Linked DNA regions of Homo sapiens: region 1 is linked to region 2. The links come from fine-mapping of genetic effects on gene expression. Tissue or cell type: whole blood. Region 2 holds a variant in brackets; the other region holds the start of a gene. Each region is shown on its reference strand, or each on the opposite one. Region 1 holds the start of KCNH3 (potassium voltage-gated channel subfamily H member 3). Region 2 overlaps ARPIN-AP3S2 (ARPIN-AP3S2 readthrough).

Region 1 (5,365 bases), not on the chromosome of region 2:
ATCAGCTCAGCCTTGAACTCCTTGTGCTCGTCCAGGGCCTTGCGGATCTGTTGGCGGACGAGCTCACTGGTGTCTGGCCCATAAAGGAAGGAGCAGGCACAGCCCCGCTGCATGACCTCAGCCCGGGAGAAGCCCGTGAGGTCACAGAAGCCATCAGAGCAGTAGACCACGGGGAAGAGCCCCGCCACCTGGGCGTTGCCCAGCACGAAGTTACTGTCTGCAAGAGAGCACTTCTCAGAGGAGGCGTGGGGTGAAGGGGCAGGAGGCCTACCACCCCTCCTTTCTCAAATGCCTGCAACCAAAGAGTGGGTTTTCCAAACCCCAGGAATCCTGCGTGTGTTAAGGCAGGGCTGTTTATGAATAGCAATCAGTGTGTGTCACCTGTTTGTCAGTGCCCTGCAGCAGGTGTGAGTACATTCAAGGATCAGCACATGTGAACTGAGGTCGGTGAATGAAGCGCTGTGCGGGCACTGTGCCTTCTGGAGGGTGTCCTGAGCAATGTGGGGTAAGGGCTGGGATTGGGGAATCCCTAATGAGGACTGCCCTGCCAGCTCTGGGCCAGCCTCAGCCCCACCTCTACTTCTGCCAGGCTCACCCACTAGCCAGGTACCCAGGTTGGCTGTCTGGCTTCTCCCACTGAGACACACCTAGACTGGAGGCAACCCCAGACCACCATACATCCTGCTGTCTGTGTTTTAGCCCTAGCTGCCTGACCTGGCTCAGGAATTAGTGAATGTGATCAAGAATGGGGGTGTAAGAATGGTGACTGAGCACGGGAGCCAGGAGCCAGGAATGTATTGGGGAGTGGGGGGCACTGAATCAGCAGGCTGCAGGAGCCAAGCACACTGGCAAAGCAGATGGAGGAGCCCGGAGTGGGGAGAGCGCAGGGCTGGGCTCCCACCCCCTATCAGGAACCGGAGACCAAGGAGGACCTAGGCAGAGAGCTGGGAAGCCCCACGGGGGATGTGAGGGAGAGGAGGAGGGAGGGGCTTTCATCACTTCCCCTGTGCTCAGAGCCCCCAGAACCGGGGATCCAGAGCTCGGGGCGCCTTCTCCAAACTTCCCCAGTCCTGATGGGAGTCCCCAAACCATCTTCTTGGGGCTAGATGGCCTCCCCAAGTCTAGGGGGTTCAGGCTATGAGACACGGGGCTTGGACACACGGTGCTCTCCCGAGTGCCGCCTACTCTTATCTCCGTTTGCAAATCTCTTTTCTAAATCTGTGTTTTGAGCCCTCTCAGCTGTCCCTGAGCACTGTTCACCCGCCTCGCCTTACCCCACCAGTCCGAGGGTAGTTGCTGCGACAGCGCCAGACGCAGGGGTGGGATGGGTCAGACTGACTAGGTTCGGGTTCGAGACCCGGCTAACAGAGAGCATCCCAGGACCCACACCCAGGGACTTCTGGCCCTGTTGCCTCGCCTGAAGCAGTGTTGACCCCGAACCTTCGAACCTTCGGGGAAACAGCGCCTAGCAGGAGACGATGGCCCCAGCCTCAAGAGGGGCGGGTAGGGAGGAGAGGGTGAGAATAGGCTGGCGCCAAGCTGGGCTGCTGGGGGTTCGGGGAAGGCGGGAGCCCTGGCGAGGGTCCGGCGGCCCGGGTGCAAGTGGGCGAGGGTCGGACTCACGCGTGCCGTCGAAGCGCGTAGCGATGGTGTCCAGGAAGGTGTTCTGCGGCGCCAGGAGGCCCCGCATGGCCGGCATCTTAGGCGCCCGCGGCTGCCCGCCCCATCCCTCCGGGGTGCGGGGACTCCGCGCCGGGGGAGGGCGCCCAGCTCGGCCGCCCCCCGCCGGGCCCCGCGCTCCCTAGCGCAGCCGTCGGGGGGCAATGCGCAGACCGGGATCCGGGGTCGCGCCGGACGCTGGCGCGCGAGGGGGCGTCCGCGCCGTCGGGGCCCGGAGCATGGCGCGCGGCCCCTCGCGCCCTCGCCGCCCACAAATCCCGGGCTCCAGGCCCCGCGGCCGCCGCGCTCTCAGCACCTCCCGCCGCGGCAGCGGCTCGCGTGTCGGCTGCGGGTGGGCTTCCGCTCGGCTTCGCTCGGCGCCGGCTCTCGGCAGCTCCCTCCGTCTGTCGGGGAGAAGCTGCAGCCTCCCTCCCTCCCTCCCGCGCCCGCCGCCTGCACCGGGGTAACCATGGAGACGGGGCACACCCAGCCAGGGCCGCCTCCTTAAAGGGACAGGCCTCCCGCGGAGGGCTCCCCTCCCTTCGGGACCTCGGCGGGGGCGGGGAGGTGGCGGCCGCCCTGATCCCACCCCGCGGGCCTCCCCGCCCGTACCTCGGAGAACCACTGGCGAGCGGCCGGCCCCCTTTGGCTCACTCGGCCTCAGCCGCAGAGGGGAGGCGTCTTTCTCTGCAGCCCGGGGGCTCTCCGAGAGCCTCCTAGCAGCCTCTCCTCCCCCGGCGGAATGGGAGGGGGGCTCGGGGCGTGGGGGGCAGGGGACGCATGCTGTGGAAGATGCTCTCCCCGAGGAAAATGCAGTGGGCAAGGGGACAGGGCGACAGGCGCAGGTGAAGGCCCTGCGGCCAGCGGAGGCCGGCGCTCTAGAGGGGCTCCAGCCGCACCCGGGAAATCTAAAAGCAGATGGGGCGGGGGTTCTGCGCGCACAGCTGCCCGGCCCTCGAGACTTTCTCATCCTCAACTTGACGCTCTGGAAAATGGATCCAGCTGCTCCTATGAGGTGTCTCCGCAAGCAGGAGCTGCCTGGAAACCAGAGGGTGGGTAGCCCTAGGAGTAAGGGTCAGACGTCCTCCGTGTGACCCCGTGGGCGGAAAGGGTGTGTGGTGGGGAGGGGAGCGCCAGACCCCTTGTCCTGCCCCTCCATTTCCCTCTGGCATTTGTCACCTCTTGCCTCTCCTAAGCGCGCTAGAGGGTCAGGTGGTAAATACAGGGGACCGGCAGGGGTCAGACACTGCGAAAAAACTTCCGAACCTTGTGCGTGCGGGTCCTGGCACCAGGAGAGCGAGGAAGGCCGAGCCCCGCGCCTCACGCAGCTCGTCCTGGAGAGCTCCGCGCGGCGCCGCGCGGGGTGCTGCCCTGGGGCGGCTGCAGGGAGCCCCTTCCCGGCGGGGCGGAGCCGGGCCCGGGGCGGCCGTCTTTTCTTGGCCTCCCGCGCTGCGACGGTCCCCCGGACTTGCCTGCCAGCGCCGCTCCTCCTCCCTCCCACGATTTGCCAGCGAGCGCGGCTGCCGCCCGCGCCCAGAGGAGCCGCCGGGGCCAAAACAGCAATTTGTTCCCTAACGAGCGAAGCGGTAGGCTCAGCACCCCCATCCCTCGAGACGCACTCACAGTCACCAGCATCAGAAAGATGCTACCCCTCATCAGCGACGAGAGCCAAAGCCCCAGGCACCTGTATCTAAATGAGCTGGCGCTTTGGGAAGGGAGGACGCGCTCCTCCTTCTCCGGTCCTGTGAAGCCTGGAATCTGGTCCCCAGGACGAGGAGTGACCCTGAGGAGTGACCCTAAGGAGTCGGGAGATCCTACTCCCATCTCATCCCCAGCCTTGGCTGGATCCTGGCTGTAAAGTAATCCCCTCCCCCAGCCGTTCAAGGCTTCCTCTCCAGGCGGCGGTCCAGCTGTCTACTAAAAAGAAGGACATTTTAGGAGTCAGTTCACTTTGAGACAGGATAAGGCCACAATTGAAATCACCCACCCACTTGGGAACCAGGTCTGCCACTTGCTGTCCCTGTGATTAAATTTTTTTTTTAATTTTGGTCTGTGTGAATTTTTTTTTTTTTTTTTTTTTTTTTGTGACGGAGTCTCCCTCTGTCGCCCAGGCTGGAGTGCATTGGAGCTATCTCTGCTCACTGCAACCTATGCCGACCAAGTTCAAGCAATTATCCTGCCTCAGCCTCCCAAGTAGTTGGGACCACAGGCATGCGCCACCACGCCCCGCTAATGTTTGTATTTTTAGTAGAGATTGGGTTTCACCATGTTGGCCAGGCTCATCTCGAACTCTTGACTTCAGGTGATCTGCCCGCCTCAGCCTCTCAAAGTGCTGGGATTACAGGCGAGAGCCACCACACCTGGCCTGTCTGTGTGATTTTTAAAGGCAAGTTATTAACCCTTCTCTGACTCAGTTCTCTCATCTGTAAAATGCGGATGCTAATAATAACATCAGAGGGTCGTAATGAGGATTCAATGAGTGAGTATGTGTAGAGGATCTAGAACAGTGTGTGACACCTGCAACATGTAAATGTTTGTTGTCTGATTTTGAGTCTCCTAGGAGCCCTGTGAAACAGCCAGGGTGGGGGCTCCTTATGCTCCATTTCACAAAGGAGGAACCAGAGCTGAGAGAGAGGGAGAGAGGAAGAAGAAGAAAGAAGAAAGAAGAAGAAGGAGGAGAAGGAGAAGAAGGAGAAGAGAGAAAGGAGGAAGGAGAAAGGAGGAAGGAAGAAGAAGGAAGAAGTTAAGAAGAAGAAGAGGTGGAGGAGGAGGAGGAGGGGAGGGAGAGGGAGAAGAGGAGGAGGGGGAGGAGGAGGGAGAGAGAGACTTGCTCAAGGTAACAGAGTTGATAAATGACACAGCCAGGGTTAGAACCCTGACAGTCTCCCAGCCCTAGGTCGTTGGGTCTACCTCTCTCTAGCCTAACTGTGTGGGCACTCAGAGGACTGGTCATCTGGGCTTGTGTAGCATGTCTGGGTGGCCTTACACTTATCCCTGTAAGGCCTAAGTGTTTAGACTTTCAGGCTTCCAGCTCACCTGCTGGGGCTGGTTTTGGGCATTAAGCCAAACCAGACACCTTGGGTTAGGGTGATCAGGGTGAGATGGAATGTGTGGGGTGCCCCTGAGGATTACAGCAGCTTACACTTATTGAGCATTAACTTTGTGCCAGGCACTGTGCAAAGTGCTTTACTTGGATCGTCCCATTAATCTTCATAATAACGCTATGAGCTAGTTATTAGCTATAACTGCCAATTCACGGATGAAAAACTTGGGGCAGCGAGGTCAAGTCCCTAGTCTGAGGTGCACTGCCTCCTCCAGCAGCTCCAGGCACAATGCCCATGTCACCCTTTGCTGCCCTGGTTCCCACTTCCAGGAGAAGAAAATACACTAATATTTATGGAATGTTATTACCATTCTTATTGCAGAGTGAAAAGTCAAAGGCCTGTTTGGGCCTTTAAACCCCTTCCCCCATTGCCCCTCAAAGAACTCATGTGAATGCGTACTGGGAGGGGGTACCGCCACTGACCCTTTCCTTTATGTGGCCTGTTTTAGATGAGCGTGATCAGGCACAGGATCTCAGCCCACTATCCTCTCTCTTCACCTTTACCCAGTCCCTCAGATCTTCCTGCCAGACCTGGCTTTTGTTTGTATGGATTCCCCCAGCTCTTAGTCACAATTCCCTATCTTTTTTTTCTATTCTTTTTTA
Region 2 (5,365 bases):
TTGAAGCCCTGTATGTGGCCTGAGGCTTCCACATCCACCCCTGGCCTTGCCTCCCATTTACTCAGAGGATCCCCGTTCCCTCCCCTCCATTCCAGGGGCCAGGCTGGCCTTCCCACCTCCTGCCATTTCCTGTATCTGGCAGAATCACCCACAAACCTGGCTTTGGGCTCTAACTGCCTTTGTGCAGAGCCCAGGCCAGGCCCTAGGCGGTCTCTGTTTTACTGCCCAAATCCTCTTTTGGTTCTGGGGTCTCAGTCCGTGCGTGCTATATAACAAAATACCTTAGGCTGGGTGATTTATTAACAATAGAAATGTGTTTGTTTATTTTATTTTTAATTTTTAAAATTTTTGTTTCTTTGTGCATTTTTAGTGGCTGGGTTTTGCTATGTAGCCCAGGCTGGAGTGTAGTGGTTATTCTCAGGTGCAATCATAGCACACTATAGTCTTCAAGTGATCCTCCCTCCTCAGCCTCCAGAATAGCTGGGACTGTAGGTGTGTGCCACTGCACCTACTTAAGAACAGAAATGTCTGGCTTACAGTTCTGGAGGCGGGGAAGTCCAAGGTCAGGGTGCCAGCAGATTCAGTGTCCGGTGAGGGCTTGCTTTGCGCTTCAGAGACGGTGCCTTCTTGCTGAGTCCTCACATGGCAGAAGGCAAGGCGGCTCTCTCTTCAATCTCTTCTGTAAAGCACTCATCCCACTCGTATGCCATGACTCACCTCCTAAAGGTCCCACCTCTTAATACTATCACATTGGTGATTAAGTTTCAACATATGATTTTTTTTCTTTTTTAAAAAAATTTTAGGGTGAGTGTGGTGGCTCATGCCTATAATCCCAGCACTTTGGGAGGCCGAGGTGGGTGGATCACTTGAGGTCAGGAGTTCGAGACCGGCCTGGCGAACATGGTGAAACCCCAGCTCTACTAAAAATACAAAAATTAGCTGGGCATGGTGGCGTGCACCTGTAATACCAGCTATCTGGGAGGCTGAGGCAGGAGAATCACTTGAACCCAGGAGGTGGAGGTGCAGTGAGCCGAGATTGCACCACTGCACTCCAGCCTAGGCAACAGAGTGAGACTCCGTTTCAAAAAAAAATAGTAATAATAATAATAATACTTTTTGATGGCCACTTTACTTCTAGGCATTATGTCCATACTCCATCAGTGGAGGAAAGGCAGCTGAGTTTGACTTTTTTTTTTTCCTTTTCTTTTGCTGTCTGAGACAAAGTCTGGCTCTGTCCCCCAGGCTGGAGTGCAGTGGCTCAATCTTGGATCACTGCAACCTCCGCCTCCCAGGCTCAAGCGATTCTCCTGCCTCAGCCTCCTGTTAACGTACGAATTTTGGGGGATACATTCCAACCATAGCAAGCCCTCCATGATCTTCTTCTTCTTCCTGATTTTGTCTCTGGTTGAGCCTCTTTGCTGTCTGCCCCTGGGTGAGAAGGTTTTGAGGTTGAGTGGGACTCTATCACTTTATTCATTCATACCTTCAGTTACTCATTGACTCTCTGAACATTAGGGACCATCTATATCATGTGCCAGCCCTTGTGCCACATGCTGAGAGGTCCAGGGATGAACAAGACCCAGTCGTATACTTGAAATGTTCTTAGTCCAGTAGAGGAGATGGACAGGCCCGGGCCTGGATCCCGTGAAGGGTGCTGAGCCCAGGCAGGCATGGCTGGGGATGCCCTAGAGCAGGGAATAACAGGACTGAATCCTGAAAGATAAGCAGAGGTCAGCCAGGTGCCAGGGATTTGCAGGGTGTTTCAGAGAGGCAGAGGGTGCCCAATGCCTGGCAGTTGAAGAGTTCCTGACCCAGGTATGAGAAGCCATGCAGGGCAGGCAGCAGGAGGGGCGGGCACTGAGGAGCTCAACTCTAACCAAGGGTGCAGGGCAGCCCTGTAGTGAGGTTTTAAGTAGGCAGGTGATGTGATCAGGTCTGTGTTTGAAAATCTCCAGGGAGGCAAATAGCCTGGAGCCCAGCGATGCCTGTGAAAAAGCTGTTAGGGTCACCTAGGACAGAGATAAGAAGGCCAGGATTAAGGACCTGTCAGTGGGGGTGCAGAGACTGGAGGAGCTCAAGCTAGAGGAGGCACAGTGGCCTCAGTGTTGGCTTGGCTACTGGGGAGGAAGAGGAAGGAGTCGTGATGATGCCAGGGGTTGGGCATCGGTGCCAGACTTGGGGAAATGGAGGGGCGAGAGGTTTGTGGGGAGGAGGTCTGTTTGGAACACACTGAGTTTGAGTTGCCAGGAGCACTGCTGGGTAGAGGTCTACTGAGGCCTTGGAGGATAGTTCTAGAACTTGGGGAGAGAACTGGGCTGCAGCACATCGAGAGTATTGAAGCTATGGAAGTGGACCCAGTTACCCAGGAGGAGAAAAGAAGTGGGCCCAGGAGGTTGTCTTGGGAAATAGCAACAATAGGAGATGGATGGAGAAGGAAGAGCAGGAGATGGAGCCACTGAAAGGTCCGAGGGATGGGAAGGTGTCATGTCTCTAAAGCCCCGCGAAGCCAAGGGGAACAGGCGTGAGGAGCTAGCAGTGGGGTCAGGCACTGCCCACGGGTTAGTTAGGTCTGAGATATGGAGCATCCAAGAAGTTTGCAGGTTAAGAGCTCACCGGTGACTCTGGTGGGGGTACATGGGGTCTGGAGCAGTAGGTGTCAAAGCCAGAACGCAGGAAGGCCTTGAGGAAAGGTCAAGGAGTGGGGAGAGAGAGACAGGTCCTCAGGAGGGGGGAAGGGGTCTATCTGCAGCCCAGATGGAGGAGCTGGCTTGAGGCAGGAGGAGAGGCCTCCTATCCTTTGAGACAGAAGGAAAGAGGAGATGTTTTGTGTGGTCAGACGTGAGTTGATGGCTGGGCGTGGTGGCTCACGCCTGTAATCCCAGCACTTTGGGAGGCTGAGATGGGTGGATTACCTGAGGTCAGGAGTTTGAGACCAGCCTGGCCAACATGGTGAAACCCCGTTTCTAACAAAAATACAAAAATTAGCTGGGTGTAGTGGCACACGCCTGTAATCCCATCTACTCGG[A/G]AGGCTAAGGCAGGAGAATTGCTCAAACTCAGGAGGTAGAGGTTGCAATGAGCCGAGATTGCACCACTGCACTCCAGCCTGGGTGACAAAGCGAAACTCCATCTCAAAAAAAAAAAAAAAGGGTTGACAGGTGAGTGGTCAGGGAAGTGAGAGGTCTCACTTGATGGCTTCTGTTACCTTGCAAAGAAAGTGAGATGCTCTGTCTAGAGGGTGTCAGGGCAGAGGGCTGAGGAGGATGGAGCAGTCCTGTGGGAGCAGCCACCTGTGCAGTCCCAGAAGGCACCCCTGGCAGAGGTTGGCTGAGGTTGTACACCATGAATGGAATGTGCTCCATGAAATGTGTTCATGGGTTGGCTGGGATGTTCTCCAGTGAAGTGCGGCCACCTGGGCTTGGCGTGGCGCAGGCAGCCTGTGGGACAAGCTCCGGGGTTGCTGTGCTGGGGTGTGGCCTTGTGAACACACAGTCCTGGGAGGCTGGGCCCACTTCACAGTCCGGGAGTGCCCCTTCCCTAATCCAGCACCTGGATTTAGGACTCCTCCCTTAGTCCATGAACTCTGCCAGGGCCAGGAGAGAGGAGGGGGACTACCAGAGTTTACTCCTGGTTCCAGTAGACCTCACCCCAGCCAGGTAGACCCTGAGAGCCTGGAGAGAACCCTGCCTGGCCACCGGGGTCTCAAGATGGAATGTGTTGGGGTGCTTTGAATCCTGCCTCCTCTACTACTGTGTGACCTTGAGCTAATTACTGAACTTCTCTAAGCCTTAGTTTTCTCATCTGTAAGATGGGAATAGTGAAAACATATGAATGCTTACCTAGGGGTCCATGTGCCAGGCGCTGTGCTACATGCTTTATTTCCTTTATACGTCATTTCAGTCCTGTCAGGTAGGTTCTGATTTTATCCTATTTTTCGGGTACGGAGAGGTGATGTAACTTGCCTAAGTTATTGTGGAGCCCAGATCTGCACCAGGCTGCCTGTCCCCAGCTCATGCCTGTCCGCCTCTGCTGTGGAGTTCCTTGATGAGGACTCGCAGAATGGGCACTGAGTCCCAGCCTCCGGGTGACTGAGCTTGGAAACACTCAGCCCTCACCTGGCTCCTGAGAGGCCCTCCGGAAGTTCTTGCTGCCACAGTGATAATGACCCTCCTGCGCTCTGTGCCTGCAGAGGTGGAAGCCAAGGGGGACACTGACAGGCTCACGCCCGAGGCGCTGAAGGGGCTGGTCAACAAGCCAGAGCTGCTCGCGCTGACAGAGAGCCTCACCCCCGACCACACAGTGGCGTTCTGGATGCCCGAGTCAGAGATGGAGGTGATGGAACTCGAGCTGGGGGCCGGGGTACGGCTGAAGACTCGGGGCGATGGTCCCTTCCTGGGTGAGCAATGCAACCCTCACTGTGGCCCACTGTTCCTGTGTGGCCCATGGGGGCTCTTGGCCTCCCTTCTGCCTAGAGCTCATGGGAGCAGGCAAGGGCTGGCCTCCATGGGGACACGACCAAGCCCTTGAGATTTACTCCTAAATCCCTGCACAAGTGCCCTAGGGCCATTGGGCTCGACAGCCTGGATCCCCGGGTGCCACCCAATCCCATGGTTCCTGTGAGCGACTCTCCCACCATACCTTGGGGGTCCCACCCAGGGGCTCATTGACCACATCTATGCCTGGAGAAAACAGTGGTTTAACCCAGGCCTAGGGGACCCCACCATAATGGGCCCAGCCCTCACTATGTTTCTGCCACAGGGACAGAGGACATTCAATTTCATCTCTTCTTTCAGATTCATTGGCCAAACTTGAGGCTGGAACAGTGACCAAGTGTAATTTCACTGGTGATGGAAAGACAGGGGCATCCTGGACAGACAACATCATGGCCCAAAAGTGTTCGAAGGGGGCTGCAGCGGAGATCCGAGAGCAGGGGGATGGGGCAGAGGACGAGGAGTGGGTAGGTACCTGGTGTTGGTGCAGTTGTATCTCCTGGCAGGAGCATGGTACATACTGGTTGAGGTTGTGGGTAGGATGAGAAGACGACAGGATGAATCTTACCCCCCAGCTTTAGTGGAATTCTGTGAAACACCTGGGAATGTGTTAGCATCAGGAGAATTCCTCTAAGGTATGAAGAATGACAACCTGGGACCTTTCTTGTAGGTGGCTCTGAACCTAACTATTCCCCAAAGATTCCCAAGTGGTAGGAAGGAGGGGGTGCAGAGGGATATTAATCATGGTCATTAAGTCTCAAAACATTTCTACTTCAAGTGAATACATTAACCATGCTGAGGCAGTTGAACAACTGAATGCGTAGTTTTTCCTCCTTTGGTTTGGGCTCCTTGCCTGAAGTGTCTGGAGAATGGCTGAC

Evidence for each region. PIP is the estimated chance that this variant, and not a neighbour inherited with it, causes the effect.
Region 1: it holds the start of KCNH3, and the variant in region 2 is the best candidate, but not a certain one, in a credible set for the expression of KCNH3 in whole blood (TOPMed, PIP 0.51).

The regions. Positions count from the first base shown.
Region 1 is chr12:49,535,751-49,541,115 of GRCh38, reverse strand. It overlaps KCNH3 (potassium voltage-gated channel subfamily H member 3), which reads right to left and starts at 2,086. Exons shown (of 15, transcript NM_012284.3): 1 at 1,624-2,086; 2 at 1-217. The coding sequence starts at 1,699. RefSeq lists enhancers at 463-512, 1,157-1,966, 1,967-2,778 and silencers at 2,096-2,275, 3,006-3,125.
Region 2 is chr15:89,902,805-89,908,169 of GRCh38, reverse strand. ARPIN-AP3S2 (ARPIN-AP3S2 readthrough) reads left to right here. Exons shown (of 10, transcript NM_001199058.2): 4 at 4,187-4,393; 5 at 4,791-4,954. It overlaps ARPIN (actin related protein 2/3 complex inhibitor), which reads left to right. Exons shown (of 6, transcript NM_182616.4): 4 at 4,187-4,393; 5 at 4,791-4,954. Among named protein-coding and RNA genes, the nearest start is that of ARPIN, 7.5 kb to the left of the region's middle. The variant A/G (reference allele first, on the strand shown) is at 3,026.